Linked DNA regions of Homo sapiens. The protein of the gene in region 1 binds, or shares a complex with, the protein of each later gene. Each region holds a gene or a part of one and is shown on either strand. Other genes may lie near its edges.

Region 1 (7,992 bases):
CGACCTGAAAGTTTCTTTTTTTTGAGACAAGGTCTCACTATGTTGCCCCTGTCGGAGTGCAGTGGCATGATCAGGGCTCACTGCAGCCTTGCTTTCCCAGGCCCAAGCAATCTTCCCACCTCAGCCTTGCAAGTAGCTGGGACCACAGGCATGTGCCACCACCCCTGGCTAATTTTTGTTTTGTTTTTTTCAGAACAGAGTCTCTGTCGCCCAGGCTGGAGTGCAGTGATGTCAGTCTCAGCTTACTGCAGCCTCTGCCCGCCCCCCGGGCTGGTTCAAGCGATTCTCATGCCTCAGCTTCCCGAGTAGCTGGGATTACAGATGCATGCCACCACATCTGGCTAATTTTTTGTATTTTTAGTAGAGACAGGTTTCACCATGTTGGCCAGGCTGGTCTCGAACTCCTGGCCTCATGTGATCCACCCACCTTGGCCTCCCAAAGTGCTGGGATTACAAGCGAGAACCACTGCGCCTGGCCTGGGAATTGAAGTTTCTTAGTGTTTGGAATAGTTTAAAACGTTTTTTATTTGGAAATTTCTGGGTTTTGAAATGTATATGGACTGGCTGGGCACCATGACTCATGCCTGTAATGCCAGCACTTTGGGAGGCCGAGGCGGGTGGATCACTTGAAGTCAGGAGTTTGAAACCAGCCTGGCCAACATGGTGAAACCCTGTCTCTACTAAAAAAACCAAACCAAAACAAAAAAAAATTAGCCAGGTGTGGTGGCGGGCGCGTCTGTAATCCCAGCTACTCAAGAGGCTGAGGCATGAGAATCACTTGAACCCGGGAGGCAGAGGTTGCAGTGAACTGAGATCGCGCCACTGCACTCCAGCCTGGACAACAGAGTGAGACTCTGTCTCAAAAAAAAAAAAAAAAGGTATATGGATTAAAACTAGAGGGACAAGGATGGTTGTTTAGAGGTGACATCTTGACCATGTAACCTAGTAGTTTTTTTAGTTCAATTAGTTGTGTAAATGGACATGTGTCATCACAGTTGGCACTAAAAACAGCAAGTGGGTTATTAGATATTCAATACTGGGTTAGTAAGTCAAGTCACAGTCAAAATCTGCTGCTTTGGAAAACAGGTTAGTTTACTGAAAGTGATGTATTAGAACACAGACTATAGTCATTTCTTTCACCTATCTAAATAGATAAAATCTTCCAGCCTCACACCTGTAATCCCAGCACTTTGGGAGGCCGAGGCAGCAGATCACCTGAGATCGAGAGTTCGCGACCAGCCTGACCAACATGGAGAAACCCCGTCTCTACTAAAAATACAAAATTAGCTGGGAGTGGTGGCTCATGCCTGTAATCCCAGCTATTTGGGAGGCTGAGGCAGGAGAATCGCTTGAACCTAGGAGGCAAGGTTGCAGTGAGTCGAGATCGCGCCATTGCACTCCAGCCTGGGCAACAAGAGTGAAACTCCGTCTCTAAAAAAAGAAAAAAAAAAGCCTTCCTCCAGGACAGACTTGATGTGAATTTACTATAAATATATTGTGGTGGAGTGGGGGTGGTGCACACCTGTAATCCCAGCACTTTGGGAGGCCAAGAGAGGCAGATCGCTTGAGACCAGGAGTCCAGGAGTTTGAGACCAGCTTGGGCAACATGGCGAAACCCTCTCTATGAAAAATACAAAAGTTAGCTGGTGGGGTGGTGTGTGCCTGTAGTCCCAGCTACTAGCTACTTGGGAAGTTGAGGCACAAGATTCGCTTGAACCTGGGAGGAGGCTGCAGTGAGCCGAGATCACAGTACTGCACTCCAGCCTGGGCAACAGAACCAGGCCCTGTCTCAAAAAAAAAAAAAAAAAAAAAAAAAATATATATATATATATATATATATATATATATAAAATATATATTCTATATATATTATATTAATGTAATATTAATTAGAATATATATTATATATATAAGAAATATTTAAGCCAGTTAGAATTGTCTTGTTAATGTGTTGTCTTAAAGGGGAGTTGGAAATAAAGTATCTTGAAGACAGCTCTGGCCTAAGTGTCAGATCTCTGGACTCTAGTTCCAGGTTAGATTCCAACAAGGTTAGTGATCTAGGATGAAATATGTTTCCTGAGTCTCAGTTTTGTTACTTAAAATCAAGAAGTTTGAGTTTGTGATTTTAAAAATCTATAACATTAATCCCATGATTCTTTTTATTATTATTTTTTGAGACAGAGTCTCGCTCTGTCGCACAGGCTGGAGTGCAGTGGCGCGATCTTGGCTCACTGCAACCTCTGTCTCCCGGTTTCAAGTGATTCTCATGCCTCAGCCTCCCGAGTAGCTGGGATTAGCACGCACCACCACACCCAGCTAATTTTTGTATCTTTAGTAGAGACATAATTTCACCATGTTGGCAAGGCTGGCCTTGAAGTCCTGCCCTCATGTGATCCACCCGCCTCAGCCTCCTAAAGTGCTGGGATGACAGTCATGAGCCACTGCATCTGGCCCTAATCCTGTGATTCTAAGCAATATTCAAATTGTGTTAATTTCAAAAATTAAGGACTTATTTCCATTCACTTCTGCATGGCCTCATCCAGTCCATGGCTTCAAATACTGTGTATTATACATTCTATAAAATGCTGAGGACCCATATCTCTCCCGCCTCTATTTGTAGCTGTTATTTCCTGGATGTCTAGTAGGCACCTCAAATATCACATGACTGAAACAAACTCAATGACTTTCTCTATTTCCTCCACTAAATCTGTTGCTTCCATGCTTTTCTCATCTCCACAAATTCACCACAGTCCACAATAGCTCTGTTGAAAACCTGGCAGTCATCTTTTATTCCTTCCTTTCCGTCATAGCTCACATCCAGTTTATCTATTGGCGCTTTGAGAGCTGCTTCCAGAATACACCCAGAATCTGATCACTTCTCAGTCTTCATTGTTTAAGCCACTGGTGGTTTTCTATGTCTTTTAGGTTGAAATCCACATTCCCTACCTGCAGCCCACATCCAAACAATTTACAGGGGGATTCCTAACCCTCCTTGGTGTCCATCCTGTCACTCATTAATTAGCTCAGGCCTTCTTACCCTTGGCATGGACTGCCAGAACCTCCAGTCTCTATCCCTCTTCAATGCTTCTCGCAGCTACCACAGGTGGGCAGCAAGCCACGGGGGGCGTGGGGAGCATAAACTCATCTTGGAGTGTCACTCGTTGGTTTGCTTTTTTTCTTTAATCAACTATGTTGAGGTAAAATTTACATACAATAAGTCATGTACAGTTAAAGGGTACAGTTCAGTGAATTTTGAAAAATGTGCAAATCTATTCAATGACCACTAAAATCAAGACACAGAACTTTTCCATCATCTTTAGGTGTAAGAAAGTAAAATAGTACAGAGGCAAGTAAAGTAAAAATATGAGCCTTTCTCCAACTCCATTATAGCTTTTTGCAAAAACAACTCAACATGGCCGGGCACGGTGGCTCATGCCTGTAATCCCAGCACTTTGGGAGGCCGAGGCGGGCAGGTCTCCTGAGGTCGAGAGTTCAAGACCAGCCTGACCAACATGGAGAAACCCCATCTCTACTAAAAATACAAAATAAGCTGGGGTGGTGGTGCATGCCTGTAATCCCAGCTACTTGGGAGGCTGAGGCAGGAGAATCGCTTGAACCCAGGAGGTGGAGGTTGTGGTGAGCTGAGCTCTCACCATTGCACTCCAGCCTGGGCAACAAAAGCGAAACTCCGTCTCAAAAAAAAAAAACAAAAAAAATTCAACATTTCTGTGTGTGTTGCATGAGACAATACATATACATTTTTTTGGTGCCCAAACTCTCGAATAATGTTCTCAATCTTGACTGTACTTCAGAATTACCTGGGAAGCTTAAAAATTCCCAGTGCACAAGAAGCACTCCAGGCCAATTAAATCAGAACATAGGGGTGGAACCCAGGCTTCTATTTTATTTACTAATATTTTAGAGATGAGATTTCTCTGTGCTACCCAGGCTGGAGTCATCATAGCTCACTGCAGCCTCAAACTCCTGGGCTCAAGTAATCTTCTTGCCTCAGCCTCCCTGGCTCAAATGATCCTCTCACCTCAGCCTCCCAAGTAGCTAGAACCACAGGCGTGCCAGCACACCTGGCTAATTATTTTGCTTATTTTTTGTAGAGGGTCTCGCTATGTTGCCCAGGTAGGTCTTGAATTCCTGGGCTCAAGCCATCCTCCTGCCTCGGCCTCCCAAAGTGCTGGGATTATAGGCATGAGCCACCATGGCTGGCCCTTTTTTTGTTTTTTTGTTTTATTTTTAAGCTTCCCAGTGCAAGCAATGTTGAGAACTAATCTTTTGCCAAAGTATTTTTAGCTCTTTGTTCTCTACTAGGTTAACACCTACCGGGTCTTCAAATCTCACCTCAGAGTTCACTTCCAAGGGAAACGTGTTTTCTGAATCCGTCTCCAATGGTGGACTCTCCTTGCTGTATTACTTCTGCTTGTGTTTTTAGTCAAGTCTATTATTATTACTATTTTCTTTGCAGAGACGAGGGCTACGTTGCCCAGGTCTTGAATTCCTGGGCTCAATAGATCCTCCCGCCTCAGCCTCCCAAAGTGCTGGGATTTCAGGCGTGAGCCACTGTGCTGGCTTTAGTCATCTGTTTCCCGGATAGACTGTGAGCTCCCCAGGATCTAGCACAAGCCTGGCATATGACAACATAAATAAATGAGTGAATGTATACATGAATAAAGAGCGTGTACGGAGAAAGTTGCCGCATTATTTAGCGCAAATTAAGGCAGACATCAGCCTGCCCAGGACGCCTCTTTGGCTCTGGCGCGAAACACCCTCACGGGCCGGCGAGGCTGACGCGCTGCGCTCCATCGCACTAATCAGCCGGGCGTGGTGCGGGCGCCGGGAAGACTGGGCGGGGCGAAGGCATCACCTTTCGATGGGGCCGGCGCTGTGCGTCCTCCAGTCGAGGTGGGGCGCTGTGGAAGAGCGGCAGCTTCCGGTCGGCTTTTCTCTTCCTTCGGCTGCCGGCGCCAGCACGTCCTGTTTTCGTTGGCCGCGCTGGGATGGCCGCCACAGCTGTAGGTGCTGCTAGTGTTTAGCGCTGGTCTTTGCCGGGCGTTGAGGGCAGCTCAGCCTCCTTGTTTGTCCGGTTCGCCTGTGCGTGGTACTCAAGGGCACCAGTATTCCCGCGGTCGGCAGCATGGGTCGGGAGTCACGGTGAGGCAGAGCGCCGAGCGGGCTAGCGGGCGAGCGGCTTCTTGGGGTCGTGAGAAGAGGCGGGAGTTGAGGTGGCCGCCGGGCCAGGCCTGGCGCGGCCCCACGTGCGGTCAGCGCTGCCCCGCGAGCATTGGAAGGGCTGGGGGACCTCGGCTGAGGGAATGGTTGTGTTTGGGCCAGCGACGGCTTCCCCTGCACTACCATCAGAGGGTTCGAGCCCCTGGAGCGGGAACAACCCTCCAGGACGTTAGTGATTGGGCACCACATCCCGCCACTTCAAGGGAGCCTGCCCTGATTACTTCAGTCAGAAGTGATCCCAGTTGGATTGCTTATTGCTTCGCGTTTCCAACATTTCCTCGACTCCTGTCATTCTGTATTTTAGTTCTTTGTGCGCGTATGATCTTTTCCCAAGTTACTTGAAAGGAGCGTGTGGGCAGACATTTTTACCGCATCGACAGCACTATACACGACTAGGCTTTTACTGGGCTACAATAAATACTTGTTGCGTGGGCATTTACTTCGCAAATAGATTTCGTATTTAAGCAGGTAACTTTGTTACCTGCTTTTCTGTCCTTTTGAAGTTGTGGACTATGAGCTCTTATTAGAACTCATTAGATCTCATCACAACTTTAGATTGTTGATAGATTGTTAGGAACCTTGAGATTTTTATGTTAAAAATGACTATTTGCTATGTATTTAGCAATGACTGAAAGATATTTTATGTCTAGGAACAATGAAGGCTTTTGTTGTTAGTGCTAACAGTTCTTTGTTGAGGTACAATTAACAATCAGGGAAATGGACAAAACGTAAGGGTAAAGCTTGATGAAATTTAGCAAATATATAAACCGTGTAATCATCACCTGGATGAAGATAAAAAATATTTCTTTAACTACAGAAAATTCCTGTGACGGTGTTTTAAATCTCCGGAAGGCTGTCCAGACCAGAAATCTGAAAGTGATATTTATTTGACTCATTCTTCTCTCTCACTACCCACAGCCTGTTAGATTCTACATCCTTTGCCCATTCTGGTTGTCCCTGACTTAATTGAGGCCCTAATTATTTATTGTCCAGACTACTACATCTGTTTTAAATTGATTCTCTGAATTGATTGTCTTCCTCTGTTGCTCTCCTAATTGTTAGATCCCTTACACTACAGCCAGAGTGACACTTCTGAAGTAGAGATAAGATGATGGCATGCCCCTGACTTAGTCTCCATTGGTTTCTACTGCTTCCAAGATGAAATTTAAACTCTATGACAGCCTTCAAGGCCCTTCACAAGAAGGTCCATTCTAGCCCGTCAGCCTTCTCCTTTACCTCTCTGGTGTGCATGGCCTGTGCTCTAGGTTTGTTCAGGGAATCATGAAAGGCTTAGAGGTGGGAAGGCGCAAGGTGTTAGAGAAATAGCTAAAAAGCCCAATTTTTCTGCATATGTAGGTTTCATGAAGGGATTTTATCTTTTTTGAGAAGTAGTAGGAGGTAGGTCCTGAATAGGACTTGGGCCCAGAAAGCGGGTGGATTGTAGATTTTGAAGATCAGAATTTGTTTGTGAACCTTTGAAGATTTTGAGTAAAAAGTGTGTAATAGAATCAGAATTCTCCTTAGCAGCAATGAGTAAGATTTAATGGAAAAGTAATAGAAACAGGAAGACTACAGTCTTTAAGAATCTCCTAGGTAGATATGTCTGATATAGAATAGTGACGGTTGGAACTCTGTGGAGGTGATATAATGTGAAGGGAATTACAGAGGTGAAATTGGTATTACTTGGTTGTTTTTTTGTTTTTGTTTTTGTTTTTGAGACAGAGTCTCGCTCTTTCGCCAGGCTGGAGTGCAGTGGTGGGATCTCGGCTCACTGCAAGCTCCGCCTCCAGGGTTCACGCCATTCTCCTGCCTCAGCCTCCCGAGTAGCTGGAACTACAGGCGCCTGCCACCGCGTCAGGCTAATTTTTGTATTTTTTAGTAGAGACGGGGTTTCACCGTGTTAGCCAGGGTGGTCTCGATCTCCTGACCTTGTGATCCACCCGCCTCGGCCTCCCAAAGTTCTGGGATTACAGGCGTGAGCCACCGCACCCGGCCTGTTTTTTTGTTTTTGAGACAGGGACTTGCTCTGTCTCCCAGGCTGGAGTGCATTGAAACAATCTTGGCTCACTGCAACCTATGCTTCCCAGGTTCAAGAGATCCTCCCACCTCAGCCTCCCGAATAGCTGGGACTGCAAGCGTGTGCCACCACGCTTTGCTAATTTTTGTATTTTTTGTAGAGACAGGGTTTCACCATGTTGCCCAGGCTGGTCTCAACTCCTGAGGTCAAGCTCTCTGCCCACCTTGGCCTGCCAAAATGCTGGGATTACAGGCATGAGCCGCTGTGCCCAGCCAATTGGTGTTTTATTTATTGTATCGAATGAGAGCAAGAGAAAAATATTGATGATGACTAATGTTTTGAGCCTAGTGACCGGAAGTTGGTACGATTAATCGTTTGGGGAGGGAAGGGTAACAAGTTTGGGTTTCTACAGATTGAACTTGAGGTGCTTGAGAGATAATCAGGTGCATTCATCTCCTAGTGATCTTATTTAGGTTTATAGCTTTAAATAGCCTTTGTACACTAATAGCTGTCCAGTTTATATTTCTAGAGAAACCTCTTCCTTGAACTACAGGCTAATATTTCAACTATATACTATATATCTCCACTTGGATACCTAATATTCTGATCCACCTTCTCCCTGGATTTCTCCCTCAGCCTTCCCATCTTGGTAAATGGCAACTGAGTGATTTCTCTCTTGCTGTCACACTTGACATTTAGTTCATCATTAAATCCCATCGGTGCTAGCTTCAAGA
Region 2 (7,997 bases), on another chromosome or scaffold:
TATGCCAGTGAATCGTAAGGGAAGTCAAATGGGAAGGAAGGTGTAATAAACAAGATGAAACTTAAAAATCTCATTTGTTGTTTAATCACATCTGTGATGCTTCTAACTCCTCATATACTGTGATTTGCATAAAATTGTGTTTGTGTTTACTGTGTGGTGTAAATCTAGAGATACTTTGTATGTGAAAAGGGGATCACAAAAGAGAGAAAGCATCTCTTAGGCTATTTTCTTAAAAATAAACCTTCACAGAATGGCTGTCCTTTTCCATTAATCTGTATTCCATTGTAGCTGAATCTGTGCAGTTGAAATGAAAATGTTTTGGAGTCAGCGAATATAAAGCACTGAGTAAGGATCTGGGGCACAGTGCTTGCCTTACTGGGTCAACACTTACAACTGCCATGGATTAATAACTGGGCTAAGTTATCATTCACAAATATTGTTAGGAACTTGCCTTATTCATAGGCAGAATAAGTGGTCATGTTTATGGTGTCATTTGAGGACCTCTGTTGAAAAATCTGCAAACCTGCCACAGTGTCTGAAATTCTTCCTTTACAGAAATTCGTTTCTTTCTGGTAAGCAGTGCCCTCTTTCTAAAAACATGCAGAAGTACCATATGAAATCCCTAACCCCTGGGTGTGCAATTGTGATCAGATCATCTTCCTGCTTGACTTTATTAAACCCAATGGGTGCCTAAGTCCTGTAAGTGTATGGCCTAATTAATCTCTGCCCATGGAAATCAGATGGAAAGTTCTGATTTTCTATCCTGTGCTCCTACCTGCTAACATCATTCACTTGTTAATAATTATTGTTTTAAAAAAAAAAACTCTTGTCAATAGACGTGTCAGATTTAGACCTGTGGTTTCAGAAAAATTTTTGGAGCAAATTTAAACATGTTTGGCACTATAGGTAAATTTGTATTTAAAAAAAAAAACAATGTTTGAGTGTGCTTTTGGTAATGCTGAGCTTTCTTTAAATGGCTTGTGGAGTCGTGAACTTTTGCTAATGATGTGGCTCCAAAAGGTAATACATATTAACATTAGACTTTAACTTTCTGTAAAATTGGTTTACTTAAAGTTGGGCGGGGGGTGTGATACTGTATTAGTATTGTTTTAAAGTGGACACTGTAACACGTGTGGAAAAACAAATAAATATGAAATAAAGTTTTAAATGACTCTGTGTAACTTTATATTCTAAAAACAGTATTTCTGACAGAATATAACGGAACCCATTTTAATTCCAAAATGTTACTTTCAAGTCACAGAGCCCTAAAACAATCTTACTATTTTCCTCACTCTGAGTAAAAATTACATCTTTACTCTCCTAAACTCTAATAACTTTTCAGATATAACTTGATAAAAGTACCAGAATACTAAAGTGAAGACAGCTTTTTGGAAGTTCATAAAACTAGAACTCAAAGAACTTTTTTTTTTTCCATTCTCAGCAATCCTTAGGTGAGTTAGGGATATAAAATAATTCCCTAAATGGCTGTGTAGGGCATCAGCCTCCTTCCATCCGTAGTTGTAGTTGGCTTAAAATTCACAGCTTTGCTTTGATTTTTGAGAGGGTGGTCTCTTTTTCAACAGATTATCCTTGTCATGGCTAACCTTACAAGTAGGCCCTAATAGCCACAATTTTTTTCACACTGACTTTTGTGGTTCCAGAAATGTTTCTATGGAAAATTTCATTTCTTTGGAGAGAATTCTAAATGGCGTGGATAGCTGGGATATATACAAAATAAATTCTGTATACATCTCAGTGTTGCTCGGGGTCTTCCCTGACCCAAGACTTAAAACATGGAACATAATACAGTAATACTCCACAAAGCATGAAAACACAGTCACGAAGTTAGGCATTACCAAAACGTCCAGCAGGTAAGTCTTCATCATTGAAGGTGAAAGCACTACAAAACACTTAACGACTCGCTTTTCTGCTGAAAATAGCAAATTTGGGTTTGCAGAATTTCTGCAGTTTGAGTCATCTTAGGTCAGGAATTCATCGATCTTTTTGTCAGAAAGGAGTCTTTTTAGTTCCACTAAGCCTTGAGATTATAGGATGTGGGGATAGGAAAATTCCTGGACAGAGTGGGCTTGAAGGGACCATTTTTTAAAAATCTGATTTGGTATAGTTCAGTAATTTTTCAGAAAGAGTTCTTAGGCCAGATAGGTGAGTCCTATCTGGAGTGCAGTCTCTGCTTTTGTAGGTTAATGTATATTTATCCACCAAGAAGGCTGTGGCCTATTAGGGCAGAAGTACAACACAGATCACCCCATATAAAGGTCAGAGGGAAGAATGAAGCACATATTCAGAGAGAAGCCAGCTATGTAGATTCTTCCTAGGTCCAGCATCCCTTTATGTGGCCCATCTACACTGCAGTCCTGGAGTTTCAGTAGCCGCCCCTATCTTTATAACCCACCCCCCTTTTTTTTTGTTACCTCGAGTGTTTCTATAACTTGCAAGAAAAAAAACTTGTAAAAGACAGGTTACAAAGACAGAGATGCTTTCAGATTACCTCAGTCATTAGGGAGTTATTCTATGAATATGCAGGGAAATGAGAAAAAATAGGAACCAGGCCTCACAGAGACCACAGCATTGTGCAATTATAAACTGCCAGTTCTCACGACCAAACAGAATGCCATTACAGGTACAATGTGTGTACCTCTCAACTCCACTGCCTCACTAGTATAGTGACTCAGTGACCCTTCTTCGCTGCTTCAGCTGCTCCTCTCACCCGTGGGGAACTTCTCCACAGCAGGCCTCTGTTCTGCCTTTTACCTTCCCTGGGAGTATCTCCTTGCTTCTTTGCTACTCTGACCACATCCCTGTATGTTCCATACTCAAACTTTCTGGGAGAGGTTCTTACTGGCTCAGTCAAATCCAGTCTAGAATGCAGAGCTATCTGCCAGGTCACCACACAGACCCTGGGCAGCCTTTGGGCCAGGATGGCTGGGTGACATGGGACATAAGCATAAGGAACCCTTTAAGTCACCTGCTCAAAAGACGGTTGTGGTAGAGCCGGCACTCAATGATATGTGCAGTAGGGTGGTGTCGCATATTATCACCTATGCTGTGAACTCGGGAATGAAATGGGAGCCCAATAACACATTGCTGAAAACAGCTGTATGCTATTTTTGGATCCAGGAAAAAATATTTAGCAAAGTTTAAGCCTAATAAAACTCACATTACCTATATCATAAAAGTGCACACAAATTCAGTTCTCCAAGAGTTCCTGCCAGAATGAGAACTTCATGAAAAAGAAATGTAATTTAAAAAAAAACTAACCCAAACTATTAAAAACTGTTGTTATCGTTGAAACCATAGATTCACACAACTGGTGTGTGGGGAGCCAGGATTTTCTAGAAGTAGTACTCAACTGCTATGTTTAGAAGTGAAGGTCACTGGAATAGTGAAATAATTTCTTCTGGTAAGGTTTTCCCGGACCTCAAGCCCGGGTTATGATATTTATGTTTACACTAATGGGTTCCTTATTATTTTAATGAATTAGTATTTTTTAACAGCCGCTTTCATTTTTGTGCAGAAATATTGGTAAGTATAAACCACAAACAAACGTTTTTTGGGGTTTTCAATGTTTTAGTGTAAAGAGGACCTGGAACCAAAAAGTTTGAGAACTGCTGTCCTCCAGCATCTCATATCTGTCAGGTGCCAACCATCTTAATTCTGTCTCCCCTGAGCTGTGCCTGTCTTGTCAACTCCTGGGTCGCCAGAGCCTCACGCAGTGCCCTGCACTTAGTAGGGGCTCAATAAATACCTGCCCAACTTAAAAATATGGACCTTTTCCTTTTCAGCAATGAGTGTAATTCCTGAAAACAAAGTTCTGTTTAGAACAAAAAGTATGCTGTGTCTTTCTAAAAGAATGACAAAGAAGCGGAGTTTCCCGGCCAATAAAGCTGGTGTTTACACTGGGATGTTTACATTTATGCTTAAGTTTCAAGTTCGAAGCTCGAGCGCCACTGAAATCTGCAGTACAAGAGGCAGGCAACTGCTGCCCTTTCCATCCTTCCCACGGAGTCGAACTCCAGCCAGAGGAAGGTATGAGACCGATAAAGGAGAAGGCTGACACCAGAAAAAGAAAGTTGGCCCTTCTACCCCTCATTCGTTCATTCATTCGCTCATTCCGCATTAGACACCAGAGCCGGTGCCAGGAGTTTAGGCTACCAAGATGAACAAGATCCGGTGTCTATCCCCGGGTGTCGTAAAGAAACAAGTAAAAGACGCGGTTCCTGAGCGGGGGAGGGGCCTTTGGGCGAAGGAGGCGCGTCGTTTTCTCGAAGCCAGAGAAATTTGTCCTGTCCGCCCCACCCACTCCCCTAAGATGGCGCCCTCGCGAAACCCGCCCGGCCACCCCCGCGAGGGAATATTCCCACGCCTTCCTTCCGTTTCCCTCCCGGGCCGGCCGATCCGCCGGGGACCCCGCGGAGCTCAAGGCCCTTGAGGCGCCGCGGGATCCCAGTGGCCCTCGCCCCGCCCCAAACCCGACCCCGGTGGGCGTCGACGCGCAGCAGCAGCGGGTCCCCCCAACCCCGGCGCCCCGCCTCCCCGGGCCTCGCGCCGCATGCCGGCGTCGGCGCTTTTTGACGCCATAGTGGGCGTGTCGGCGCGACCCGCGACGTCGCCACGCGCCGACAATGGCGGCTGCGTCGGCCTGAGCAGGGCTTAGTTTAGAAGTAATTTCCTGACGTTGCCGAGGGAGCCGCAGTCGCCTCAGATCCGGTCGGCGGCGGCGGCGGTGGCGGCGGCGGCAGCGCGCCTGCGCGCTCCCGCAGCGCCCTGGACCTAGCGGCGGTGCCGAGGCCCGGCGGAGCAAGCCAGGTGGGCGGCGGCGCGGCCGAGCTCACAGCATCAGCGCGCGCGCGCGGTGGGCGGGCAGAGAGGGGGGCGGTGCAGCCGCCGAGCGGCCGCGATTTCCCGGGGACTGCTGGGGCGCAGCGGGGAGGCGGGCCGGGGGGCGGCGGGGCGCGAGCAGAGCGCGGTTGACCTCCCTTTCTCTGCTCAGCTCCAGCGTCATTTCGGCCTCTTAGTTCTTCTGAACCCTGCTCCTGAGCTAGGTAGGAAACATGAGCGGCACCAACTTGGATGGGAACGATGAGTTTGATGAGCAGTTGCGAATGCAAGAATTGTACGGAGACGGCAAGGATGGTGACACCCAGACCGATGCCGGCGGAGAACCCGATTCTCTCGGGCAGCAGCCGACGGACACTCCCTACGAGTGGGACCTGGACAAAAAGGCTTGGTTCCCCAAGGTAGGAGAGTGCCACGGGCGCCACTGCAGAGCGGGCCGCCTGGCCAGCCTCGCGGGGCACTCCTTTTACGTTTGCTTTGCTGAGATCCTTGGTCCTTGGTCCTAGCCCCCTTGAATAGCGACGCTTCTTTTTGTTGTGTTTGTTGGGGCACCGATGTGTAAAAGAACGTAAATCTTTAGGGTAGTGTCTTAAATGTAATTTTTAAGTCTTTTCTATGCTTTATTAATCTTGTCTGTGAAGGTCACAGTTGATTATTACATGACTGCTTTTTATTGCAAAGAGGAAAAATACCAAGAACAAATTTAGTAGCTGTCCATTTCTGGTAGCCAACCCCACTTGTCCTAGGAACTCAGATGTTTAGCTTATGTACTATGTGCAAAATGCAGTTTCTTGATTTCTTTTTTAAAGTAGCTGTTTATATAGCTTTACTAATTGAACTTTCTTTGCACCTTGCTTTACTTTCCTAGTAAATTTTGTCCCTAGGCATATATGTTTGAACCATATAACCACAGGAATAAGACTGGAGATACACAGAATACAGATGGAAAATCTGTGTATGTTTGTTTGGAATACTTGGAAATTGCTAAGTATTTTTATTTCAGCTTCGAAGTAAAATAACTAATGTTAAACTTGATTCTGTAAACTTTGTGGTAAAAGTGCCCTTTTAATCTGGCTCTCATGAGCAGGAAAGGGCACACTAATAGCACACAAATTGACTTGCAAGTCAATGATACAAAACCTGTCTCCACTGCGCGACTGGACTGCTATTGTAAAAATTCTTTTGCAACTTTTCTTTCCCATTCTGTATTTGTATATATATTCCAATCCCTCCAGATTGTTAAAATTTACGATTTCACTTCTGTGTTGGTAGTGCTAGTTTGAGTGCAGATTTGGTTTCTTCAGCATTCTGAATACTTTTAACAAAGGTGTGATAATGGATTAATGTGTGACTTTATCCTTTTATGTTGTTGAAGCCCATACCTCTTCAAACTTTGGGTTTTACATTTTCCCCATTCCATGCCTGCCTAATATTGATTGGTATGATGATATAACTATATTTCTTTCGTTTTGCAATAACGCTTTTCCCCCAAAGGGGAGGAAGATAGATATGAGTTGGATTTGTCTTTAATTTGTTCTGATACTAAAATATAACGTCATTTAATTTGTGATAAAGTTAAAATGAGCATTTAGTTTTACAATTGTTAACCCCATTCTTTATATACCAAATCAGAGTTCTGTTCTGTGTGCTCTCTGCATACAGATATTTAAGTACTTATTGTACATGTATATTGGTGCATCTGTACAGTAAGAGAAAATTGGATTCTGTGGTTAGATTATTCATTGACTGTTGGTTTTTATTGTTTTATTATCTGGTTCTTCCTTTGTTGTATGTATTTGTAGCCTTAGTCAAGTAGTGTAGAGAGGTAGTAATTAATAAATGAAACAACTAGAAAAGGTGCCAGCATCACTTAAAATGCTTTAAATCGTATCTCAGACTTTTGCATTGATCATCTAAGTACTTGTGTCTTATTTTTTATCACCGTATGCACAATTTTCTATAGAAGGTGACTATTCTTGCATTTATACCTTAATAACTACAACTATTATCCACAGAAACACTTTTGTGTTAAGTTGTATAACTATGCTGTAAAAACACAATTTAAACTTCTTATGAGTGGAAATAATTTTGAATTTCTCTGTCCGGGTCTGTTGAATTGCTTGTGTAGATTACTGAAGATTTCATTGCTACATATCAGGCCAATTATGGCTTCTCTAACGATGGCGCATCTAGTTCTACCGCAAATGTTGAAGATGTCCATGCTAGGACTGCAGAGGAACCTCCACAAGAAAAAGCCCCGGAACCCACTGATGCCAGAAAGAAGGGAGAAAAAAGAAAGGCTGAGTCAGGTAAGTGGTTCTAGCTTACAAATTTTAAGTGTAAAAATTAAAAATATGGGTGTGCATAGGTACAGTTGCTTTTTCGAGAATTATAATAGCTTTGAAGGAATAAGGTGAGTTTTTTCTTTAAGGTAGTGTCAGTTATAAAGAATCAAGATAAACTGGCCATCTTTTTTCCAGATAGGGCTCTAAAACTAATTATTTCTCAAAAGATTTAAATCTTTTGAAAGCTGGGTAGTGATTTGAGTTAGTTTATCTTGGTCTTTTAAGAGTAACAGAAAGGTCGTCCTGGAAGTTTCAAGAAACTGCTGCTTTGTCAAGATTCCATAATATGACTCTTATCTTTTTTTGCAAGTGTTTTATTTATTTAATTAATTTTGATTTCTAGGATGGTTTCATGTTGAAGAAGACAGAAATACAAATGTATACGTGTCTGGTATGTATAACTTTTTAAACAGGTTTAAGGTAGGAAATACTTAATTTTGAGATTTTTCACGAAGTGATTTTTAGCTTTCAGTTTCTCCAGAGTCCATTTTTTATCATTGTGTCATTTTTTGTTCAGCCATTTATATTAGTAAGGAATATGTGTGTTCATTACAGAACCAAGAAATTTAGTGTGTAACTTTGCATACCAACCTTTAGGCCTGGTTAATGTAACTTACAGCAGTGTGTCCCTTCCCATTCAGTGAGGCCCTCAAGAAAGCATAATTTTAATGTATATTTGAACACACAAAAATGTGAAATTTCTTCAGTTCCGTAAATGTAAAACTTTTACATACATTTAGAAAATCAACATTGCATTCACCTAAGTTATAGATTTCTAATTGGTAGAATGCTAAG
Region 3 (7,020 bases), on another chromosome or scaffold:
AAGAGCTTATCAGATCATATGTTAGGAATCTACATTCTCACTTCTAGGGATAAACATGAGTTTTTCCTGAACTCTCCAGGGAGAGAATGTGGACAAACCTTAGCTTCATCCTAAACCTGGTGGGGTTTTTTTGTTTTTTGTTTTGTTTTGTTTTGTTTTGTTTTTTGGGAGACAAAGTCTCCATCTGGCTTCTAGGCTGAAGTACAGTGGCATGATCATACCTCACTGCTGCAGCCTCAACCTTGTGGGCTCAAGAGATCTTCCCACCTTAGACTCCTGAGTAGCTGGGACCACAGGCACATGCCATCATGCCCAGCTAATTCAGATAATTTTTTGTAGAGACAAGATTTCACCATGTTTCCCTGCCTGGTCTCTAACTCCTGAACTCAAGCAATTCACCTATCTTGGCCTCCCAAAATGCTGAGATTACAGGTGTGAGCCACCACACCTGGCCTAAACCTGGATCTTAATAAATACCATATTGTTCTTTCCAGAAAGAGACAAGCAGTGCCCTGACCCATGCTGGAGCCCATCTTGACCTCTCTGCATTCTCCTCCTGGGAGGTATGTTTCCTTCAGCAGTAGTAGTGTTCTCTCTGTCTATTTTTCTGTCTTTAAAGACTGCTCTCCTGTCTTTAATACCATGGTTGTGTTGTGATAAGGCACTATTTCTTGAGATCAAGCATCTACAAAGAAAGTAGCAAGGCAAAAAGAAAAAAATTACTACTTGGGAAACTGAAATAATTATTCTAACTACATTAAGCCGTAGTAAAGTAAATGGAACACTATCAGTATGGTTAAGTCTGAAGATAACTATAGATTCAGTCCTCTGGAGAGTTTAGACTTACTGCTAGATTGGCTGTGAAATGTGTGGTCCTGCCACAGCCTCAGGAACACCCACCCTCTGGCCTGCATTTGGGGTTTCCCAAAAATCTGTTAATGTAATATTGTAATTTTTCTCTTCTTTGTATAGGAGTTGGCTTCTCTGGGTTTGGACAGATTGAAATCTGCTCTCTTAGCTTTAGGCTTGAAATGTGGCGGGTAAGGAATAGTTTTTCTATCAAAACTATCGATTTACTGTGTGTTTGCACAGTCTTCTAAGTAGCTCTGATTCCATTTTTTTTGTTGCTCCACACTGCAAAAATAAGCCAGCCTGTGTGGTAAAGTAACCCTAAAATCCTTTGCCGTCCTGTCTCCTTAGGACCCTAGAAGAGCGAGCCCAGAGACTATTCAGTACCAAAGGAAAGTCCCTGGAGTCACTTGATACCTCTTTGTTTGCCAAAAATCCCAAGTCAAAGGGCACCAAGCGGTGAGTGGCTGGGGTAGCACTGCTGCTTGTGGCTTTTAAATGTTATTCCCATGCAGAATTTTTAACCACAGTGGAGACTTTAAAGCCTGCTTTATCTCCGTTATTGGTTGACAGAGATCCAGTCTGCTCTTTATCTCTGCTAATAGCAGAGAGTACTATCACTGTTAATATAAACCAAGGACCGTCTGTATTCATCTGATTGAGAGCACATCAAGTTTCTAAATTTGAAACCATATTCATGGCACCTTTAATAGGTTATGGAGGCTAAAAGGCTAAATAGGTTCAAAACCTATTTTTCTAAGCTTATTTTTGGTAAAGTTGAATCTAATTCTTGAGCTACATACTTATACAAGGTATTTTCTTTTTTCTTTTTTTTTTTTTTTGAGACAGTCTCACTCTGTTGCCCAAGCTGGAGTGCAGTGGTGCAATCTCAGCTCACTGGAACGTCCACCTCCTGGGTTCAAAAGATTTTCCTGCCTCAGCCTCCTGAGTAGCTGGGACTACAGGCACGCACCACCACACATGGCTGATTTTTTGTATTTTTAGTAGAGATGGGGTTTCATCATGTTAGCCAGGCTGGTCTGCAACTCCTGAGCTTAAGTGATCCACCTGCCTTGGCCTCCCAAAGTGCTGCGATTATAGGCGCGAGCCACCGTGCCCGACCCAGGGTTGTTTTTTTTGTTTGTTTGTTTTTTTCTTTTTTGAGATGGAATCTCGCTCTGTTGCCCAGGCTGGAGTGCAGTGGCACAATCTCGGCTCACTGCAAACTCCGCCTTCTGGGTTCAAGTGATTCTGCTGCCTCAGCCTCCCGAGTAGCTGGGATTACAGATGTGCAACACCACATTGGCTAATTTTTGTGTGTTTTTTGTTTGTTTGTTTTTGAGACGGAGTCTTCCTCTGTCACCCAGGCTCAAGTGCAGTGGCGCAATCTCGGCTCGCTGCAACCTCCACCGCCCTGCTTGAAGCGATTTTCCTGCCTCACTCTCCCGAGTAGCTGAGATTACCAGAGTGCGCCACCATGCCTGGCTAGTTTTTGTATTTTTAGTAGAGACGGGGTTTCACCATGTTGGCCAGGCTGGTCATGAACTCCTGACCTCAGGTGATCCACCTGCCTCAGCCTCCCACAGTGGTGGGATTACAGGCATGTGAGCCACCGTGCCCAGCTAATTTTTGTATTTTTAGTAGAGAGAGGGTTTCACCATGTTGGCGAGGTTGGTCACAAACTCCCAACCTCAAGTGATCGCCAGCCTCAGCCTCCCAAAATGCTGGGATTACAGGCATGAGCCACCGAGCCTGGCCCAGTATTTTCTTAATGTACGTTTTTTTCTAATTCTCACAACAACCCAGAAAATTAGTTGTTATCCTGAGTTTTTGCAGATAAGGACTCAGAAAAGTTATGGAATGTGTCCACTCTCTCATAGTTCTAAGTAGCAGAGTCAGGATTTGGGCCTAGGTCTACCTGCTGCAGAGCTTGCTCTTATATACCACATTTCCTTTGTAGATTATAATGATGGAAATGTAAGCGGTCTTGATGTGTCCTTCATCTTCTAAGTGAGGTCATAGAGGAAGCCTCCATGCATTCTGAGAAATACCCTCAGTATTTGTCAGAGAGTCCTGAGATGAACAGAGCATTTGCTTTCATAGCATCGTATTTCTCATGTGCTTATAATTTTTAATGCAGTTGTGCAATAAATGTTCCCAGATATAGGGAACAAAACAATGGATGAGAGAATCCTTGAGTGAAACAGCTTGTTTCTTTTTCTCAGAGACACTGAAAGGAACAAAGACATTGCTTTTCTAGAAGCCCAGATCTATGAATATGTAGAGATTCTCGGGGTAAGTGACTGACTGCTGAAAGTGGAAAATGGTATAAAGCACAGGAGTTAAAGGGAGAGGAACTCACAGAAGATACTTTTTCATTAGGTTCAAAAGAGGAGTGGATAGCTGATAAACTAGTATGGCACAAAATAGAGGTCAGGGTACAAGGCTCTTCAGTAAGTTCCTATTCTGTTGTTAGATGATACTCCCAAAGTTGCCCAATTCCCATAAAGCCAGTCATGGAGAATAGAGTCCCCTCACAATATAATGTCCAGAATAGTGCAGATTCTGTGCCTGAGCTTTAGAAAATACTCAGGAGTAGCCCACAAAGCAGACACTCAAAGGGCAAGTAACAGAAAGGCTACTCAAAGTGGCCTTTCAGTTATGACTTATGAAAAGGCATTTTCATAAGTCATCTCATGTAAGTCAACTTACATGTTCATAAGATTATGAGAAACTTAGTAGGGCTAGAATATTATTAGTACAAAGCTGGCAGTGAATGTTCTTGAATATTTCAGGAGGAGCTGAAGTGTGGGTTGGGGTAGAGAAAGGCCTAGCCTGACCAGTATGCTTGTCTCAGAGAGAAAGCAGGGAGAGGAGTAGGAGGAAAAGAAATCTCTTTCCAGGAAGAAAAAGTGGAAGAAAGGGCAGCACTCATCCAGAAAAGATGATCAGTGTCTCTGGAGTCCTTCAGAAGACCAGCCTTTCTGATTGTGTCTGCTGTGTACAGTTTTTTTTTTTTTTTTGAGACAGAGTCTTGCTCTGTCACCCAGGCTGGAGTACAGTGGTGTAATCCGGGCTCACTGCAACCTCCACCTCCAGGGTTCAAGCAAGTCTCCTGCCTCAGCCTCCTGACTAGCTGGGACTACAGGCATGCGCCACCACGCCCGACTAGTTTTTTGTATTTTTAGTAGAGACAGGGTTTCACCATATTGGTCAGGCTGGTCTCGAAATCCTGACCTCGTGATCCGCTTGCCTCGGCCTCCCAAAGTGCTGGGATTACAGGCGTGAGCCACCGCGCCCAGCCCAATTTTTAACTCTCAGAGCCTTTCCCTTTACACATACTCGCATGGTCCGTTGAGTGGATGGCTCTGGATCAGATAGCTTGTTCACATATTTTTGTTAATTGCCGTGGACATTTTCATTCGGCCTTTGAGGACCATTCGTATAATAGCTGTAGAACTAGTCACCTGTGATTCTGTTATGACTGCTTTCAGTAAAAGGCTAGCTAGACATTGGACATTGGAGAGATATATTCTCCGCTGTGAACTTGGGCTGTGCTAGTGTGGACAGCAGGCTGAATTGCCAGTCTTGTGAGTGGCTGGGAGGCCACTCATGCCCTTGACATGAGATTTGTCCACCACTTTCTCCCTCTTTTTTTTTTTTGAAATAGTATCTCACTCTGTCACCCAGGCTGGAGTGCAGTGGCGGGATCTCAGCTCACTGCAACCTCCGCCTCCTGGGTTCAAGTGATTCCTGTGCCTCAGCCTCCCTGGTAGCTGGGACTACAGGTGTGTGCCACCACACCTGGCTAATTTTTGTATTTTTGGTAGAGACAGGGTTTTGTCTTGTTGGCCAGGCTGGTCTTGAATTCCTGGCCTCAAGTGATCCGCCTGCCTTGGCCTCCCAAAGTGCTGGAGCCACTCGACGGCCTCTCCATCCTTTAAGAGCATTTTGCTTTCCCTGCCAGGAGATGGCACTATTCTCTTCGGAATTCCAACCAGTTCTAGCCAAATACTTTCCAGAAGTTGCTCTCACTATGAACTGATAAGATTTTTGCCATTATTATACCATTTGTTGATGTCTGTTGGTTTTTGGACATTATGCAAATTTTTTTGATACAATAGTGAATAAGACACAGCCTCTTGCCCTTAAGAAACTCATTTTGTGGTTAGGGGAGACAAATAATTACAATATAATGTGATACATACCTGAATAAAGTGAGGTTGAGTCTTCTAAGTAGAAAGAGAGAAGGGAGAAGAAAAAGTTTCTGGTAGAGGAAACAGCAAACACAAAGATACAACAGTATTAGATAAAATTATATGTTCAGGAAATGAGAAATGCAGTGTGTGTGGAATATGGCTTATGAGGGAGGGAATGGTCGGAGAAAACTCTGTCAGAGAGTTATGTTGGAAATTTGGACTTTGCCTTATAAGCAGTAGGAAGCCAATAAAAGTTCTCTTAAGTAGGATAGCGTGCCACTACAGATTTGGGTTTTTAAACAGATAAACCTGGTAGCAAAATGGAAATTGGATTGGAATGAGGAGAGACTCAAGGCAAGTTAGAAAGTGGTCATCTTGGGCCGGGCGCAGTGGCTCATGCCCGTAATCCCAGCCCTTTGTGAGGCCAAGGCGGGCAGATCACAAGGTCAGGAGATCGAGACCATCCTGGCTAACACTGTGAAACCCTGTCTCTACTAAAAGTATAAAAAATTAGCCAGGCATAGTGGCGGGCATCTGTAGTCCCAGCTACTCGGGAGGCTGAGGCAGGAGAATGGCATGAACCCAGGAGGCAGAGGTTGCAGTGAGCCGAGATTGCGCCACTGCACTCCAGCTTGGGCGACAGAGCAAGACTCCATCTCAAAAAAAAAAAAAAAAAAAAAAAGTGGTCATCTTGGTGAGGAAAGGAGAAGAAAGTCCTGGTTAAGGAAATATTTTTTTTTTAATTTTTTTTTATACTTTAAGTTCTAGGGTACATGTGCACAACGTGTAGGTTTGTTACATATGTGTACATGTGCCATGTTGGTGTGCTGCACCCGTTAACTCGTCATTTACATTAGGTATATCTCCTAATGCTATCCCTCCCCCGTCCTCCAACCCCACAACAGGTCCCGATGTGTGATGTTCCCCACCCTGTGTCCAAGTATTCTCATTGTTCAATTCCCACCTATGAGTGAGAACATTCGGTGTTTGGTTTTCTGTCCTTGCGATAGTTTGCTCAGAATGATGGTTTCTAGCTTCATCCATGTCCCTACAAAGGACACGAACTCATCCTTTTTTATGGCTGCATAGTATTCCATGGTGTATATGTGCAACATTTTCTTAATCCAGTCTATTATTGATGGACATTTGGGTTGGTTCCAAGTCTTTATTATTGTGACTAGTGCTGCAATAAACGTAAGTGTGCATGTGTCTTTATAGCAGCATTATTTACAATCCTTTGGATATATGCCCAGTAATGGGATGGCTGGGTCAAATGGTATTTCTAGTTCTAGATCCTTGAGGAATCGCCACACTGTCTTCCACAATGGTTGAACTAGTTTACAGTCCCACCAACAGTGTAAAAGCGTTCCTGTTTCTCCACATCCTCTCCAGCACCTGTTGTTTCCTGACTTTTTAATCATCGCCATTCTAACTGGTGTGAGATGGTATCTCATTGTGGTTTTGATTTGCATTTCTCTTTGTAGATTCTTTGTAGTTCTTTGTAGATTCTGGATATTAGCCCTTTGTCAGATGGGTAAATTGTAAACATTTTCTCCCATTCTGTAGGTTGCCTGTTCACTCTGATGGTAGTTTCTTTTGCTGTGCAGAAGCTCTTTAGTGTAATTACATCCGATTTGTCAGTTTTGGCTTTTTTTTGCCATTGCTTTTGGTGTTTTAGTCATGAAGTCCTCGCCCATGCCTATGGCCTGAATGGTATTGCCTAGGTTTTCTTCTAGGGTTTTTATGGTTTTAGGTTTAACATTTAAGTCTTTTTTTCTTTTTCTTTTTCTTTTTTTTGTTGGAGACAGAGTCTCACTCTGTCGCCCAGGCTGGAGTGTAGTGGCATGATCCCAGCTCACTGCAACCTCCACCTCCTGGTTCCAAGCGATTCTCCTGCCTCAGCCTCCCGAGTAGCTGGGACTACAAGCATGTGCCACCATGCCCAGTTAATTTTGTGTATTTAGTGAGACAG
Region 4 (7,020 bases), on another chromosome or scaffold:
TTAAGCCACATGGACATGTGGTGTCTCGTTTTCTACAATGACTGTTTTTTCCTATTTTAGTTGTGATGGAGTGGAAGCAAACCACCACAGATTATCTCACAAAGCAGCTATAATTCAGTTAAATCCGTGGAGTAATGTTAGAATAGCATTTTTGTTGTTTTTTTTAGAGACAGGGTCTCGCCCTGTCGCCCAGGTGCCCAGATGCCCAGGTTGGAGTGCAGTGGCACAATCACAGCTCACTGTAACCTTGAACTCCTGGGCTCAAACAATCCATAATAAGATTTTTAAAACATATAAAGCATTAATATGAGACTTAAATGATGTTGTGAGACTAAAAACTTGCCTTAATAGTTTAAGCAATATCCTAGAAGACCAGCACACATTTTAAATTTTTCTGAAAATGGTACTGTTTCCCTCCCTGAAAACACCTAAAGTGTAATTAAAGTAAGTCTTAAACCCTTCCATCTATTTTAATTAAGAATTTAAGACTACAGGCTGTGCGCAGTGGCTCACGCCTGTAATCTCAGCACTTTTGGAGGCCAAGATAGGTGGCTCACTTGAGGCCAGGAGTTCGAGAACAGCCTGGCCCACATGGTGAAACCTCATCTCTACTAAAAAATACAAAAATTACCTAGGCGTGATGGTGCATGCCTGTAGTCCCAGCTACTGGGGAGGCTGAGGCAGGAGAATCGCCTGCACCTGGGAGGCGGTGGTTGCAGTGAGCCGAGATTGAATCACTGCATTCCAGCCAGGGTGACAGAGCGAGACTCCGTCTCAAAAAAAAAAAAAAAGAATTTAACAATACATTCCAATAATCAGAAGGTCAGTGGTTAAATGAAGAGCTTTCTCAACTGCATTATTCAGACCATGCCTCAAAAGAGATTTCTACATGGAAGTATTTTCCAATACCACAATGCATTTATTATAAAGTAATTTTTTTTTAATGGAAGTAAATAACACTCACCCAATGGCCTTTGCAATATAACCAAATGTGTTGACTGTGGCTCTACGAATAGCCTTTTTGTGGGCTTTTAAGAGCTCTAAAAGCTCAAAGCAAATCCTCATCCACTCTCTTGCAGATACATATTCAGCTCCCCTAATTTAAAAAATACACATATTAATTATTGTGACATTAAGAAAAGTTTTAAGGATAAATTTGCAAATTCAGTTCTAAAAACATGATTAACTCATTTTAAGCATTAAATAAAACTTACTACTCTTCAGAAAGGCTGAAGAGTTAGTCTTACAGGTTTAGTCCTAAAATTACATTGCCACCCCCATTACCATCCAAATTGAAATTTGACTGAAAATATTAATACTGGATAGCCTAATCTTTTACACTTATATTAGTGACATTAAGGAAATTTTGCTAATTGAATACAAAGTGGCCAAATTTGAAAATTGATACTGCTTATAAAAATGTGTGGGTAATCTGCTTACCTGTCAGCAATACGACCAACAAGATCAATACAATTCTCTTGTACTTTTTCATGTCTGTTCTTTAAGATGGGGGTGAGTCTAGGCAGCAGATCTTTAATTGGTGGAGTCATCTTATGCATACCTATTTAATAGAAGTCAATAAACTATCAACATTTGAATTGCAACTTTTGTTCACTTTCCTTTTACTTAGCAATGTCATATATGACTATGTATAAATATAAACTTACAGCTGCCTAGGGAAAGAGAAAGCCCCAGATTCTGACCAGACTCAGAATCGTTTTTAACTTTTATTAACAATTTTTGATTATGTATAGAAATGAAAGAAATCAGTGAAGTGATTTAAAGGATGATGGATACTCAATAACAAAAAAGTTTTGTTTGATTCTGAAATATATTTGTGCACTGACATTTAAATATGGGGACAGCTTATGTTCCGGCCATACACAACAATATAAGCCAGAGGTAAACATGTAAATAAAGCAAAAATTTCCAGAAAGGGCCCCCTTACCCTTTAACTGCAAAACAAACAGATCTCCAGTCTCCCTGCAATGCAGGGCATACTTGGATGGTATTTACACCTACGAAGAGAGAAAAAAGGAGGCAGCTGGCAGGGGCTCTTGCTCTAACTAGAATCACTTGCTCTGATTCTCTCTCCATTGCTCTTCCCATGCCTCTCTGACAAACAATATGGTTTAAAACTCCCTGCAAACCAGAGCCCTACAAGTGGCCATGTAAATGATTTCTGGCAAGTAGCTATCTTCAAGTATAGAGGATAGGGTTGCATTGGAGATTATATGCAAATACAATAGTTTAAACATGTGTATCGCATAAATACCTCTTACAAAATGAGGAAAAACAAACAGTGGCTCTCTCACAGTCAGCTATTTTGACTTCTGCTAGGTTATCAGAGCCTCTAAACTCTGCAGGAGTTACATTTGGCAACAGTTATAATCAATTTAAAAAAAAGATTAAATATAAGAAACCATTTGTTTTCTTCATACTGCCCTAATGGAATAAAAACTTTGCTCTCCATATCCAAGACCATTTGTAATATAGCTGTATTACGGGTTAGAAAACTGAATGGACAGTATTTAAAACTTGGGTATGTAAATAAAGACAATAATTTGATCAGTTCACTTTTCTCTGATTATATTCCTTGAAACTGATCACAAGCAAAAAACCTGTCATAATCGCTAATTCAAGGTTTAAATATATATATATTGTTCTAAAACTAAATTAAAACTTTAGGATTGCCTTTTCACCCCGCAGCAGAACATGGCAGAATATATTTCACCTGACACACTATTTCTACTAGGGTCCTGTATTCCATGACTTCAAAGCTTTTTGAGCTGTGACTACTCCCACCTCTCATGTAGGTCCTAAACTTACCCTTTTTTTCTCTTTAAAGTAAAATATAAATGGGTTTTGGGAAACAAGACTTTTGTGACATCCCCCGACTTAACTACAATCTTGAAGTGCTTTTAAAAAGCTAACAAAAACCTCCCAACTCCTAAATAAGATTTTACTTACGAAAAAAAAAAGAAAAAGAAAGTTAAAACAAGAAAAAGTCTTATGTAACCAGCAAATTCCATACCTATGACATTTACAATGGCCTTCAGTGCTCCAAGAATGCTGCCCAATACTTCAGGGTACTCTTCACCCAAATACTCATACAATACAACACCCAAGTGTCCCATCAATTTTTCCTATAATAAAACAAATAATGTTAAAATGTTACTATTTACATTAAACTATTTGGGGAAGAAGTAAGAATTTGATGCAAAAGTTTACCTCTTGACAAGTCTTCATGACAACAGCAGTTCGAGAAATCAAGTCAGCTGCCTGTTGCCTAACTTTAGCAGATTTGTTATTTAAACGCCACAAAACTGTACCACAGATCTGAGGCAAGTATGGTTTGACTCGTTTGCCAAGAGCATTAACCACTGTGCCAAAGCCGTTCAACATTACTGAGTCCTAAAAAATAAATTTAAAAAAAAGACATATTCATTTGGTTTATGACTGCACAGTTGAAATACACTAAGAGTCAACCTTTTCTAACCACCCAAACATCTGTTGCTGTTTTTTTACATCAAATCTTAAAACTTGAGGTAGAATAATATCGTTTGGTAACCCCCTGAGCATTTTAAAAATTACTTCAAATTCAATTGCATTCTAGAAAAATTTGCTTGACAACTAATATGCTTTTCTACAAATATTAAAGTTAGTAGCAATGTGCCATAATAGTTTTCATTACCTCTGTAGTCTGTTCTTGGAAAGCATAAAGAATACCATCAATCAGTTGTTCTTCAAGTTTATGATCAATATCTGCTGCTCCCAAATTACCCATAATTTTCTCAATTGTCTCCATCACCATTTTTCTGTACTGTTCGGCTTCATCTTTCAGATCATCCACAATCCTGGATATAATTTCTGCTGCACCTACTTTGTTTGCCAACTCCACAGTAGTATCAACTAACTAAAAAGAACAGAAAAACAAAAAACCTTTTAGACTGCTTTTCCAAGGAAATAAAGCAACATCATGAAAACCAAATACTCTAAATATACTACTTATTTAGCTAATAAACATGGTAAGAATGATTCATTGCTACTTATTAAAGTTGAAGAGAAAAGTGACCAAACATCGAAAAATGAGTATAAGTTAACATGATTCAAGGTAAAACTGTGTCCATGTTTCATCTAGCCAGATAAAGCACTGAATGTACCAGACAAAAACATCAATTCACAGTTAAGTATTAATCCTCGAATCCAAAATCAAAATGGAAGTTAACTGGCTGACTAAAATCCATCTCCTTTCATAATCAAGCACATATAAACTGTGAGATAATCAAGGCAAAAAATAATATACAACATGCATTCAAGTTGACTAAAGAATGAGTTGAAAGGACTTTTGAGAATATTCTTTTACAATAAAAGCTTACCTGTCGGTAATTTCTTCTATCCAAAGCCATCCTGTGCTGCCAGAAGTGTTTAAAAAAGGGAGGAAGAATCTCTGTTTTAATGTAGTTTGCTTCTACACCATCTGTCCCACAACACTGTTTTACCACCTAAAAGGTTAAGAAATAGTAATAATAAATCAACTGACCTGAAATGAAGAGAATACTCATTGCTGATTACGTGATTTTAAAAAATAAAATTTAAAAACAAATCAAACAGTATTCGTGTAACATACAGTTTTTTTTGTTGATTTTTAAAAACACTTTAAAATTCTGTTAGAACCATGAAACATATCCAGTTTACATTAACAAATCTGGAATAATTACCTTCAGCACAATTTTTTTCATTTCCTCATCAGGAGACTGGAATTCTCGAATAAGGATTAACATCACTTCTCTAGTATAGTAGTTGGCATATTCTGCATCCATAAGAGGAATAAGATACCCAATAGCCTTCAAGAAAGCAGCCAAACCCTATTTTTAAATAAAAAATATATGTACTTTAGTAATTTAGATTTATGTCGCCTTAACTTTAATGAAGATAAATCAAAAGGTAATTGGTGGATTTACCTTTCCTCTGTGTTGGCGGATACCCTTCCATAAAGGCTTTAACACAGAATCAAAAGATTCGATACCATAAGGAGTTGCTGCTTCAGCCAAGGCAGCAATGGCCAAAGCACTGATGGTCCGAACTTTCTGCTGCTCATCCACAAGACCTACAAAACCAAACACAGGTTTTAACTATGCCCCAACATTACCTAAGTTACACAATATCATCCAGATTCTCTCAATATATCAACTATTCAGCCAAACTGCAGAATATGTTCACATTAAACAAAATTAGGTAAAAGCAAAACATGAACCATAGCCTGTCAGCAGATAATATAACAAACCCATCATAAAATCTATAGTTTGTAGAGCTATGCCTTTCCATTTATCTCCCCAAATCAGTAGCCCAAATTTTAGGACAGCTGTCCTATTAAACATGGACAGGCTGTGTGTGTACCTCTAGTCCCAACTACTAAGGAGGCTGAGCAGGAGGATCACTTGAGCCCAAAGGTTTGAGTCCAGTCTGGGCAACATAGTAAGACCCTGTCTCCTAAAGAAAAAAAAAAAAAGACAAAGTTACATTACAACTTACCATGTTCAATGATTTCAACTAAACTTCTAAGATGTGGCAAGATGGCACAGCCCATAAGAATAGCTATCTGTTGTACAATCTTAATACCAGTGTGTCTCGCTTGCCAGGACTTCTTGCTTTTGCACACAGCTTTTAAGAAGGGCAATAAAGAAGGAATGCCCAGGGCAGAGGCTACAACAGCAAAAGCTCTAGCTGTTGTGTTACGGACATACTCATCCATGTTATCTATATCAGGTCTCATGGTAGAGATCATAGTAGCCAGACCAGCAGCCTAAAATGTAAACAAAGAAAGGACAGTCATGAGTTGGTAATATTAATCTTCAACCATTTCTTTCCATAATCAATTCCATAAACAGATATAAATTTTCTTCTCTAGAAATTAAATGTAAATACCTTTGCCAAATTAGAAATGATCTCTCGGCCTTCCACTCTAGCATAGTAATCTTCATCAATCAATAGCGGTTCAATGACCACGAGGATCTGAAAAAGAGAAAAGAGAAGAAGCTACACTTTCACATCAATTACTGATGAAATGCTCATGTACAGAATTAAACATACATAAGAAATTTAGAATTATCAGGACTTTTGTTAATCAAGGGACGAACTGTTTAAGAATTTTAATTATACAAGTTCAAACTCCAGACAGAGATGAAAATTTAAGAGAGCTATTAGTGACACACTAATATTCAATATTTTTTAAAGAAATAACTTATACACCCTATGAACATACTGCACCATAATTACCATCGGTGAAAAAACTGGTTCTTAATACTAACTGGCGTTAGTTCTCATATGTTCTCATCCTAATCTAATTTTAATAAAAGCAAATGAAAAAATTAAATAATATGAACCTCTTACGGCAAAGATGACAAAAACTAACATCTGTACATCTGTATAAAACTGTATTTGTACATGTATGGTGTGTACTTGTGCAAAGGAAAAGGTCTAGGAGAATATGTAAATTTAACATTGATTAACTGAAAAAGTTAAAACTTTAAACTATCAGAAACACTATTAAGGAGAACAAACCTTATGCACATATGGACGAACTAAGTCATCAAGTTTGTACAGTATCCTATCAATAACTTTCACAAGTAAATGACGCTCTTGATCCTCAAGTGTAGGAGACATCAGCAGAGGAAGAATCTGATTAAACAAAGGACCAGCTCCAAATTCACGAGCTTTATCAGTAATCTGACGCAATGCAGCCTGGGAAAAAGAGCAGAGTAATAGGTGTGGTTTCTTTATAATCAAACATTTTGAATGAGCAAATTACTCAAAGAAGATTTTCCATACTTTAATATTTTAGTGTTTACTTTTACACACATTTTACATAGACAGCATGAGTTCATTTCCATCCAAATTACTCTGGAATTTCAATTCCTGTGATAGAAATTTTATGTTAACTCAAAAGAGTAATTTAATAGAACGAACCACAGAGGTATGTACTAAATGCCTTCATTTCCCTGAAGTATCTTCCATTTC

The links.
Region 2: DDX46 (region 1) and HTATSF1 share a complex: the UniProt entries of both Homo sapiens proteins name them as parts of the 17S U2 SnRNP complex.
Region 3: DDX46 (region 1) and SF3A3 share a complex: the UniProt entries of both Homo sapiens proteins name them as parts of the 17S U2 SnRNP complex.
Region 4: DDX46 (region 1) and SF3B1 share a complex: the UniProt entries of both Homo sapiens proteins name them as parts of the 17S U2 SnRNP complex.

The regions. Positions count from the first base shown.
Region 1 is NC_000005.10:134,753,793-134,761,784, forward strand, and holds the start of DDX46 (probable ATP-dependent RNA helicase DDX46), read left to right. Parts: upstream 1-4,986; 5' UTR 4,987-5,146; coding exon 5,147-5,163; intron 5,164-7,992. UniProt on the Homo sapiens protein: Component of the 17S U2 SnRNP complex of the spliceosome, a large ribonucleoprotein complex that removes introns from transcribed pre-mRNAs.
Region 2 is NC_000023.11:136,492,613-136,500,609, forward strand, and holds the start of HTATSF1 (17S U2 SnRNP complex component HTATSF1), read left to right. Parts: upstream 1-4,979; 5' UTR 4,980-5,072; coding exon 5,073-5,258; intron 5,259-6,985; coding exon 6,986-7,166; intron 7,167-7,545; coding exon 7,546-7,593; intron 7,594-7,997. UniProt on the Homo sapiens protein: Component of the 17S U2 SnRNP complex of the spliceosome, a large ribonucleoprotein complex that removes introns from transcribed pre-mRNAs.
Region 3 is NC_000001.11:37,973,008-37,980,027, reverse strand, and holds part of SF3A3 (splicing factor 3A subunit 3), read left to right. Parts: intron 1-494; coding exon 495-563; intron 564-972; coding exon 973-1,040; intron 1,041-1,200; coding exon 1,201-1,308; intron 1,309-3,074; coding exon 3,075-3,144; intron 3,145-7,020. UniProt on the Homo sapiens protein: Component of the 17S U2 SnRNP complex of the spliceosome, a large ribonucleoprotein complex that removes introns from transcribed pre-mRNAs.
Region 4 is NC_000002.12:197,397,021-197,404,040, forward strand, and holds part of SF3B1 (splicing factor 3B subunit 1), read right to left. Parts: intron 6,745-7,020; coding exon 6,565-6,744; intron 6,016-6,564; coding exon 5,929-6,015; intron 5,807-5,928; coding exon 5,536-5,806; intron 5,111-5,535; coding exon 4,965-5,110; intron 4,869-4,964; coding exon 4,722-4,868; intron 4,506-4,721; coding exon 4,380-4,505; intron 3,917-4,379; coding exon 3,695-3,916; intron 3,415-3,694; coding exon 3,232-3,414; intron 3,147-3,231; coding exon 3,035-3,146; intron 2,019-3,034; coding exon of another isoform or gene 1,949-2,018; intron 1,562-1,948; coding exon 1,441-1,561; intron 1,097-1,440; coding exon 965-1,096; intron 1-964. UniProt on the Homo sapiens protein: Component of the 17S U2 SnRNP complex of the spliceosome, a large ribonucleoprotein complex that removes introns from transcribed pre-mRNAs.